Linked DNA regions of Homo sapiens: region 1 is linked to region 2. The links come from fine-mapping of genetic effects on gene expression. A gene starts in region 2. The other region holds a variant in brackets. All regions are shown on one strand. Distances are from middle to middle.

Region 1 (5,299 bases), 50 kb after region 2:
GGCAGGAGAATCACTCGAACCCGGGAGGTGGAGGTTGCAGTGAGCCAAGATTGCACCACTGCACTCCAGCTTGGGTGACAGGGTGAGATCCTGTCTAAAAAAAAAAAAAAAAATCCAGTCAGGAACAGGAATGCTAAGGAATCAAGAGCAGCAACAACAAGCTAGCAGAAGTAACAACTAACGAACAAGTTCATAAAGATCACAGGGAGGACCAGAAGACCTGCATTCACTGTCAATTTTATTTATACTTATTAACAATAAATGGTCTGAAAATAAAATTAAGAAGACAGCTTCATTCACAATTGCATAGAAAAATAAAATACTTTAGATTAAAATTAAGAAAATAAATGCAAACCTTGTACATTAAAATCTACAAAACATTGCTGAGAGAAAGCAAAGACAGCCTAAAAAAATGGGGAGTGATCCTATGTTCACAGATTAGAAGATTCAATATTGTGGCCGCGTGTGGTGACTCATGCCTGAAATCCCAGCACTTTGGGAGGCCGGGGGCGGGGGGGGGGGTGGATTATGAGGTCAGGAGTTCGAGACCAGCCTGGCCAAGAGACCAGCCTGGCCAATATGGTGAAACCCTGTCTCCACTAAAAATACAAAAATTAGCCGGGCATGATGGTGGGCGCCTATAGTCCCAGCTACTCGGGAGGCTGAGGAAGGAGAATGGCGTGAACCCAGGAAGCAGAGCTTGCAGTGAGCCGAGATTGCAGCACTGCACTCCAGCCTGGGCAACAGAGTGAGACTCTGTCTCAAAAAAAAATATATATATATATATATTATTTTTATTTTTAGTAGAGACAGGGTCTTACCATGTTGGTCAGGCTGGTCTCGAACTCCTGACCTCAGGTGATCCTCCCATCTCGGCCTCCCAAAGTGCTGGGATGACAGGTGGGAGCCGCCGCGCCCGGCTGGGAGGTGTTCTTTCTAGACCTCACCTGGGAGTCACGCACCATTACCTCTACCACGTTCCATTTGTAAGTGCAGGCCATGTATGCCTGGAGGGAAATCAATCTTCTGCCGAACAGGGTGGTGTTCAAAGCACCACCGGCTCCACCACACTCTGCCTTTTATTCTGCATTCTGTTTCTTGAGACCACGCGCCGCTACGTGGAATGGTCTCAGGAGCTCATGTGTTTGTGCTCCATGAAGTCAGAAAGTCCAGCCTTTGCACTGCCACATACCCACCCTTAGAACAGCGTCTGGTACACGGTAGGTGCTCAGTGAATGTGCCTAGTGGAGTAAACGTGCGGTGCGGTGCTGCCTGCGGTCGGATCTGTGGGGATCCTGTGATGGGGAAGACGGCTACCAGGAAAGGTGGAATTTGGAAAGTCAGGACAGGGAGAGAGGAGGGACTTTGTGGAGGCAGGAAGGTATGGGAGCCAGTCCAGCACAAGGGCTGGCGGGAAAGCCTCGTGGGTGTCAGAGACTATACCTCTGTGAGGGTCCCTGGGCTCCCCCAGGTCAGGGCAGAGGTCCTGACCCCAGTCTAGCTCTTTAGCGGGGGCCAGGCCCGAGATGGCCAGCTCCGTTTCCCCTGCGTGGCCTGGCAGCCCCTCCAGGAGCTGGCACGGGAAGCAGGCCTGTCCTCCACGCCCTTGGCCGGCCTTGGCTGCGATGGGTGGAGACGCTTCTGCCCGCCCCACCCCTGTCTGTCTGCCTCCTCCTCTCAAGCAGGCTTCCTCTCGACAGAAATGTGTCTGCAGGTGGCTCTTGAGCCCCAGTTCTCAGGGATTCACCTGCAGAGGATGTAGAGCCGGGGTCCCTTCCCTGCTTCTGATCTGCCCAAAATCCTAGGGAGAGCCCTGATTGGCAACCCCTCGGCCAATGGACTGAGGCCAGGGCGCGTCTGCACCCGGGTTGACAGCCCTGACTAGAACCGCGAGGCTGGGGTCAGGGAGGAGCAGCCGCCTCCCGCCGGGGCCGCAGCTGTCAGAGTGGGCAAGGGGATCTCCACAGAGGGAGACTGTCCCACAGTGGCCCGGGGTAGAACAGCGCTTCCCTCCCCACCCAGCGCCTGACTGCTGGCCCCGGGCCCATCCCAGGGCAGTGCCCCAGGTCTCTGGTCCTCCCCACAGCCTTTGTCTCACCAGGTCTCAGAGGGGTCCGAGTCCAGGCTCATCTGTTGTGGTACCACTGCCCCCTCCCTCATGGTTGTGGAAGAAGCCCACGGGGGGAAAATGCAGAGCAGAATCCAGGAAAGACTCGCTCACAGGAGGAGCTGTGGCCTGGAGACGCGGCCTCCACCCCATCTCCATCATGGACAACCTGCCAAGGGGTCTTGAACAGAAGCTTGGGGACGCACATACGGTCCGGTGGGGCAGTGACCCACTGGCAGACCAGCTCCCTGAGTAGAAAAGAAAAAGCCCTGGTTTGTGGGGTTTGATGATTCCGTGGCAGCAGAGATAATCCCACTGTGGCCAATTTCGAAGCCTGACTGTAACAGCTGCTGGCAGGTGTCTGAACATTTAGCGATCAGCTCTCCAGGGTCAGCGGGAGTCGCTCCAGCACCCCACGGGGTGGGGGTGGGTGGGTGGAGCCAGGGCCTCTGCTGCAGCCTCCAACCCCTTTCTTCCACGCTGATGAGGCGCTGTCTGGGCTCAGG[T/C]CTACCCCCACGCAGCTGCCAGGCTCTGGCCTGCCTGAGGCGGATACTTTTTTTTTTCTTTTTTTTGATGGAGTGTTGCTCTGTCGCCCGGGCTGGAGTGCAATGGTGCGATCTTGGCTCACTGCAACATCCGCCTCCCAGATTCAAGCGATTCTCCTGCCTCAGTCTCCCAAGTAGCTGGGATTACAAATGCCTGCCGCCACGCCCGGCTAATTTTTGTATTTTTAGTAGAGACAGGGTTTCACCATGTTGGCCAGGCTGGTCTCGAACTCCTGACCTTAGGTGATCCACCTGCCCTTGCCTCCCAAAGTATTGAGATTACAGGCATGAGCCACTGTGCCCTGCCGAGGTGGAAGTTTGGAGATGGGCCACAAACTCCTGGAGATAGGGCCAGCTCAGTCCCCCTGAGCACCCACACACACCCTCCTGAGAGCCAACAGAAGGAGTGAGGGCCCCGAGGCGGATGACCCGTGTGCCTCAACCCGAACGGGGAGAGGCGGGGTCTGCAGCAGGGTACGGGCAGGTGATCCCCCAAGGAAAGATTTTCCTGTATTGAGAGAGAAGGGGCCAAGAGGAGGAGCTTGTCAAACACCACAGCCCCTCCCCCTCCTCTCAGCTCCAGGGGGTCCCTGGTGCCAGTGTTCGGCTGATGGAGAGAACGGCAAGCGGGAGAGAGAGTGTGACCCCTGTGGGCACATGACTTCCCTTGCTGCACTGCTGCACATAGCAGAGGTGTGGTGACGACCCTGTTTTGTCCCATTGGGGGCGTTTGCTGTTAGGTCTGCAGAATCCTCAGTTGCTATTGGAAATGGTGACATCACTGGCAGGGGCGGAGCTTCAGCCATCCTTCAAGTTAGGGAGGGGCACGCACACTCCAGGGGTGGAGGGGGACAAAGACAGGGTGGTGTGGACCAGAGGGATGGGTAAGGCTCTGGAAAAGGGGGCGCTGGGAGCGCATTGCGAGGGGGCTGGAGAGGGAGAGAGGAGCGGAAGCTGAGGGTGTGAAACGGCTGGCCCCGAACACACCTCGCGGCGCTCCAGTGATTCCTGGTGTCCGACCTCAGCCCCAGTCAGTGCGGGTCCAGTTTCCAGGCTCTCGCGGAAGGCCTGGCTGAGCACATGCGGCAGCCACGGTCACCCTCCCTATTCCTCTTAGCCCGAGGAGGGGGGTCCCAAGTTACATGGCCACGCAGATGGGGCCTCTCCCTCATTTCTGAACCTTGTGGGGAGGGGAACCTTGAAGGGAGCGCCCCCCAGAGCCATGGCTTAGGGCCTCCCCCACCCCTCTGGAGCTCCAGTCTGCAAGAGTCAGGAGCCGAAATATCGCTGACTGTGGGTGACGACTCTTGCGCGCACACACACATACAAGCGGGCACGACGCGTTCGGTCCTATTAAAAGGCACGCAAGGGTGCGGGCTGCACGCGGTGACACGGACCCCTCTAACGTTTCCAAACTGAGCTCCCTGCAGGTCCCCGACAGCACAGGCCCCTGTCCCAGGACCCCTCCAGGCACGCGCTCACACGCACACGCGCGCTCCCCGGCTCACGCGCGCTCCGACACACACGCTCACGCGAACGCAGGCGCACGCTCTGGCGCGGGAGGCGCCCCCTTCGCCTCCGTGTTGGGAAGCGGGGGCGGCGGGAGGGGCAGGAGACGTTGGCCCCGCTCGCGTTTCTGCAGCTGCTGCAGTCGCCGCAGCGTCCGGACCGGAACCAGCGCCGTCCGCGGAGCCGCCGCCGCCGCCGCCGGGCCCTTTCCAAGCCGGGCGCTCGGAGCTGTGCCCGGCCCCGCTTCAGCACCGCGGACAGCGCCGGCCGCGTGGGGCTGAGCCCCGAGCCCCCGCGCACGCTTCAGCGCCCCTTCCCTCGGCCGACGTCCCGGGACCGCCGCTCCGGGGGAGACGTGGCGTCCGCAGCCCGCGGGGCCGGGCGAGCGCAGGACGGCCCGGAAGCCCCGCGGGGGATGCGCCGAGGGCCCCGCGTTCGCGCCGCGCAGAGCCAGGCCCGCGGCCCGAGCCCATGAGCACCATGCGCCTGCTGACGCTCGCCCTGCTGTTCTCCTGCTCCGTCGCCCGTGCCGCGTGCGACCCCAAGATCGTCAACATTGGCGCGGTGCTGAGCACGCGGAAGCACGAGCAGATGTTCCGCGAGGCCGTGAACCAGGCCAACAAGCGGCACGGCTCCTGGAAGATTCAGCTCAATGCCACCTCCGTCACGCACAAGCCCAACGCCATCCAGATGGCTCTGTCGGTGTGCGAGGACCTCATCTCCAGCCAGGTGCCCTCCCCCACCTCCGCCACCCACCTCCCCTCTCCTCCATCCTGCAACCCCACACCCCCAGTTTCATTCCATCCTTTCCGTGCCCCCTTCCTCCCTGTAAGACACCACCCCAGAGTCAGCTGGCTGCTTCCGGGAGGCCTCGTCTCACTAGGAACCAAACACCAGGGTCTGCTGGCTCCCCTATCTTGGCCTGAGACCAGTCACCTGCCACCTTGGCTGGTCCTCAGAGGGCCCCTGGGGCTCCAGGCCCTGACTGGTGTGTGTAGACGTGGGGCTGGAGTGTGTCAGTGTGGGGGTGGGCATTCCGGGTAAGAGAGTAGAAGCGCCTGTCCAGCTACATGCCCGCCCTGCAGAGCTTTAAACAGGACGGGGCCTGGGGCCATCTTTGTTTCTGCTTCCAGGTTCT
Region 2 (5,361 bases):
TCTCCTGCACCTGCATCCTTGAGATGCCAAGGTTTCCCTGCTAACCACGTGAGGATGCTTGGGGTACTCCAGGGACTGACAAGAGTGAGTGGTGTCAACCTAAAGAGAAACTCAGGCTCTCCAGAATAAATGAATTTAATCAAGAATAACACATAATTGCAATGCAGAGTATGCAAGCCTCAGTGGGTCACAGGCATGTGGTGGGGGGGTGGGGTGGGGATTGAGGAAAGGGGGAATTTTTTTTTTTTGAGACTGGATCTCACTCTGTTGCCCAGGCTGGAGTGCAGTGGTGCAATCATGGCTCACTGCAGCCTCGACCTCCTGGGGCTTAGGTGGTCTTCCCACCTCAGCCTCCAGAGTAGCTGGGACCACAGGTGCACACCACCACACTGGACTCATTTTTTTATTTTTTGTAGAGACAGGGGTTTCACCATGTTGCCCAGGTTGGACTCCTGAGCTCAGGGGATCTGCCCACCTTGGCCTCCAAAAGTGCTGGGATTACTACAGGCATGAGTCACTGTGCCCCGCCCACGGGAAATTTCTTTTTTTTTTTTTTTTTTTTTTTTGAGACAGAGTCTTGCTCTGTTGCCCAGGCTGGAGTGCAGTGGTGCCATCTCGGCTCACTGCAACCTCCACCTCCTGGGTTCAAGGAATTCTCCTGCCTAAGCCTCCCGTGTAGCTGGGACTACAGGTGCCTGCCACCAACCATGCCCTGCTAATTTTTTTGTGTTTTTTGTAGAGACGGGTGTCTCACCATGTTGGCCAGGCTAGTCTTGAACTCCTGACCTCAAGTGATCCACCTGCCTCGGCCTCCCAAAGTCCTGGGATTACAGAAGCCACCGCGCCTGGCCCCAAGGGGAATCTTTTAAAAAAGAGAAGTTCCCATAAACTGCTTTGAAACCATAAAGACCAAAGGTTAGAAGGGTTTGCCGCAGGCGCTCCGTTGCTAATGTTTTTGTGAGGGCTTCTTCAGGGCCTCTTGTTAGAGTGTGACATAAACGACTTCATTTGGGTACCAGCAAGTGTCACAGGGGGCAGAGACCAGCAGAAACCTAAAGATGACCCCTAGAAGAGCAGGAGGCCAGGGGAACAGAGTTAGACGAGCCACGTGCTAAGCAGGACGTCGCTGCCGGGGGAGCTCTCCAGACACGCAGAAATGCCACAGTCAGGACCGTGGGACGCAGCGGATTCGCCCAAGGGCAGGAGCAGCCTGGCCAGGAGAGAATGAAGGAGGGGCCGGGCGTGAGGTTCGGCTGGGGAGAACCCAGGCAGGGAGGGCCTCGGGCGGCCACGGACGCCGCTTTGCCATTTTGGGCGTTTCTGGGGAGGACAACGCGTGCAGGAAGCGCAGTCATCTCAAGCTGACCTCCAAGGTTACCGAGTTCGAGGGCTGGGAGCCGGGTCTGAAAGCCCCGACCCGCCTATGGCGCGGGGACTGTGGGTCCAGCCGGCCGATTGGCCGCCTCGCTCGGCGCCGGTCCAGGCGCAGCGCTCGGGCCCCGGGGACCGTGAGATGCGGCGCAGCCAGCTTAGCTCGGGGTAGCAGCCACCCCAGCCCGGGTGCCGCCCGGCCTGGTCCGCGACTTCGGGAGGGTCCGGTCCTTCCCCCGGCCCCCACGCCTGGGTGAGGCCCTGGGCTTCTTGCCGGTGACCACGCGGCCAGGGTGGGCACCAGCCCAGGACGGCGCCCAAGGGCAGCCCAGCTCCATCCCCGCGCCGCGGGTTCCGGAACCGAGGCGCGGGACGCTGGGACTCTCTGCCAACATGGCGGCCCCGCCCGGGCGCCTCCCCGGGTCCCTAGTGTCTGCGTCTCCCGTGAGGGCGTGGGCAAAGTCGGTGCAGCCAGACGACAGGAGGCGAGAGAAGCCCAGCTCCAGGCCCATGAGGCGAACCACGTGGGAGCCCCAGACAGCGACCACGCCCCAGGCGAACCAAGGCCCGCCCCGTTGCTACAGCTACGCTCGTAGCACACCTGGGCAGGCGCTGCCGGACGCATGCGCAATGAACCTGAGGGCAGGGCGGAGTCGCAGCAGTTGTCTGACGCAGTCGCCGTAGGACGCAGCCCCGTACGCTGGAGCGCAGCGGAGACAGGCGCGGGCGCACTGGCCGCATAGAGACGCAGCGCACGCGCAGTCGCGTATCCGTGTGATGGGCGGGCTGTTGACGGCGCTGCGATGGCTGCCTGCGAGGGCAGGAGAAGCGGAGCTCTCGGTTCCTCTCAGTCGGACTTCCTGACGCCGCCAGTGGGCGGGGCCCCTTGGGCCGTCGCCACCACTGTAGTCATGTACCCACCGCCGCCGCCGCCGCCTCATCGGGACTTCATCTCGGTGACGCTGAGCTTTGGCGAGAACTATGACAACAGCAAGAGTTGGCGGCGGCGCTCGTGCTGGAGGGTGAGGGTCGCGCCGGGCTGACTGGGGCCCGGGGCTGCCGTGCCCGCCGCCCTCCCAGACTGCGGCTCCGAGCGGGACCTGGGCGGGCGGACTCGACTCCCCAGGCGCCGCCCTCTCCACCCCTTCCCCGCAAAAAGGGGCAAATGTGCGTTCCTGGTTGGGGCAGCCGTGGGCGGCTCGCCTGCAGCGGTCTCAGCGGCCCAAATTCTGCGGGGCGGTGGTGGGAAGAGGGCTCAGAGCCCCAGCAGGTTTTCTGGGCTTCGTTCGCTTTTCTGCAAGGTCCTGGCCCAGGCGCCTGCCCCTCTTGGAGCGGAAACCGGAGGTTCCCCGTGGTGTATGCTCCCCTCGGTACAGTGAGAAATGAGCCCCTCTTGATTGGCTCCTGGTCTGTTCGTGGTGGTCTCAGGCCGAAGGGCATTGATAACCACATGCGGACTGTGCATCGCCTGGGCGGTGCCTGGGCTACATCTGTGGGAGTCGCAGGAGTCTTTCTCCACTGTTGATGAAATGTGACAGAAATGTTTCTGCTTTTTTCTTATCCTCGTCTCATCTGCACCACTGTATTAACGACATCTGTAGTATTGTCCCAGCAATGTTCCTACTCCCTGCTGAGAGGGAACTTCTCCCCATTCAAAATAAATAGAGCTGGCCGGGCACGGTGGCTCATCCCGCGTTCCACCCACTACACTCCAGCCTAGGTGTAACAGAATGAGACCCTGTTTCCAAAAAAAAAAAGAAATAGAGCTGAACACTGGATCTTCCAGAAGAATTCCTTATTGTCCTCACAGTTTGTGACAGTTGAGACGTTCCGTGTGATATATTCAGTAAGAAATGTCATTCTCTGTACCTCCCTTAGAAATGGAAGCAACTGTCGAGATTGCAGCGGAATATGATTCTCTTCCTCCTTGCCTTTCTGCTTTTCTGTGGACTCCTCTTCTACATCAACTTGGCTGACCATTGGAAAGGTATCAGAAACACGTGTACTTGAAAACGATATCTGTGTTGAGGGTTGATTGGGCAGAAGCAATCTTGCATTCTACCTTAAACAGCTCCAGGAGGCATATATGGCAACGAATTGGCAAGAAATCAAGATAAAGAGAAAGGTAGAGCTGTATGTAACCACCTGGCTAGAACACAGATGTTAATTTGATGCTGTCTGACTACTTTCTAGGTCTCTGGTGTAAGTACTGATATGTCCAGCCTCCCTTATAGAGTAAGTCAGCTGGTGGGCTTGAACACTCAGCCTAAATAACCACACAAATTTCGTAGCACTCATTAGCGTGTGTTTGGAAAAGACCAGGCAGAGTTCTGGTGAGGATGTGGAGAATCTCTTCTCACTTGGTCTAAGATGCTTCTCTTTGGAGCAAAGCTAAAGGGCTCCTGCCCACCTGCCACATGCTGAACGTCCCTGAATGGAAAATAGGAAGGCAAAAGATGTGGGGTTCTGTGTTATGGACAAGGACACAAACTGCCAAGTGTTTTGAAAAAGATTTCATTCCCTTGGGACATTGTTGAATTCATTTCAGTGACTATCAGGTATCATAATGTTGATTTGTAATGGATAGTGCCTGCCAAGTGTTTTTATAAAGCAGTTTAAATCTCTTGTAGGCCTTGTGGCATATTTGAAATAAAATAGCTTCTGTTATTCAGCTCTGGCTTTCAGGCTAGAGGAAGAGCAGAAGATGAGGCCAGAAATTGCTGGGTTAAAACCAGCAAATCCACCCGTCTTACCAGCTCCTCAGAAGGCGGACACCGACCCTGAGAACTTACCTGAGATTTCGTCACAGGTACTTTGAGCAAATGGTGTGGGGTTATAACTGGGGTTCAATCCAGAGGCATTTCAAACCACTGAAGATTGAGAAGAATTATTTTCCTTTACCATTTATTACCACGTGTTTACCTCTCTCTCGTTTTGGACTGGTCGGATAATACTTGGGGAAAGAGAGGCGTAGTCTTTGCTTCATTCTTTTTGAAGACCAGCCATGGCCAGTTCCGGTTTTACTTCTGACTGTGCAGTGTTGAATAAGACAGACCTGTTTCCTCTCAAGAGGCCACAGCTGGTAGGAGAGGCTGGTGAGAAGCCAGGCACAGATGGGCAGAGGCAGATGGCACATGGTGTACATCCTATGTGGAAAAGAGCAGGGCGCTGGTGAAGAACAGTGGCTGGTCCTGAGGGTTCAGGGGAGGCCGTGGCACTGAGGGCAAGATCTGAGGGCTGAGAAGCTGCTGGCACCGGGCAAGGTGGGGAGAGGCAGACTTGAGCCTGAGTGAAACTGCCTGAGGCAAGGAGGACCTTGGCATATGCGGGAAGGTGAAATTCCCAGGGCTGGGAGAGGGAGCAGGGGTTGGCTCAGTCCAGCTGTGGTCCTGCAGGTCCTGGAGGCAGCATGGAGGGTCCAGTTGATGTATGCGGGAAGATTTTGGCGTGGACTGGAGGTCTGAGATGTTTACTGTGAAACTGCTCTGGCTGGGTGGAGACACAGTGGAGGGCAGGAGGCCAGGAGAGCTGCCTGGCCGTGGGAAAAGCTGAGTGGGGGGAGGAGTGCTCCGCAGGAGTGGGCCTTGGGAGAAGGAGGGTGAGTCCCCGGGTGGAGGGGCCAGCAAAGGCTGTGCAGGCTCTGGCTTGGGGACACTGAGGAGCTCCGTTTTGGATCTGCCCACTGTGAGATGTCTGGGAGGCGCCATGGAGACCTTGGTGGGCAGGTGGTGCCAGGATCAGAGTCTGCCAGGGGAGACAGGTTTTAGGAGTCCCTAGGTATAGGTGGTTTGTGTCCTCTGGAAACGTTGGAAGAAGGGGCCAGGCCTAGTCCTGGGCACCACCAGGCTGAGAAGATTGGGGTCAGGGAGGAGGGCAGGGGGAGTGGAGACTGGGGATGGGTCAGGAGGCAGCTGGAGAACCAGGAAAACGTCCTGTCAGTGAAGGTTTGGTTCAGGAAGAACAGCCAAATCCCCGACACCGTTGAGAACA

The links. PIP is the estimated chance that this variant, and not a neighbour inherited with it, causes the effect.
Region 1: its variant is fine-mapped to the expression of MAN1B1 in spleen (GTEx, PIP above 0.99).

The regions. Positions count from the first base shown.
Region 1 is chr9:137,134,855-137,140,153 of GRCh38, forward strand. It overlaps GRIN1 (glutamate ionotropic receptor NMDA type subunit 1), which reads left to right and starts at 4,300. Exons shown (of 20, transcript NM_007327.4): 1 at 4,300-4,890. The coding sequence starts at 4,633. RefSeq lists a silencer at 3,843-4,137. The variant T/C (reference allele first, on the strand shown) is at 2,614.
Region 2 is chr9:137,084,826-137,090,186 of GRCh38, forward strand. MAN1B1 (mannosidase alpha class 1B member 1) reads left to right here and starts at 2,160. Exons shown (of 13, transcript NM_016219.5): 1 at 2,160-2,393; 2 at 3,250-3,358; 3 at 4,044-4,180. The coding sequence starts at 2,175. It overlaps MAN1B1-DT (MAN1B1 divergent transcript), which reads right to left and starts at 1,992. Exons shown (of 1, transcript NR_027447.1): 1 at 121-1,992. RefSeq lists silencers at 1,514-1,743, 2,294-2,523 and an enhancer at 2,084-2,313.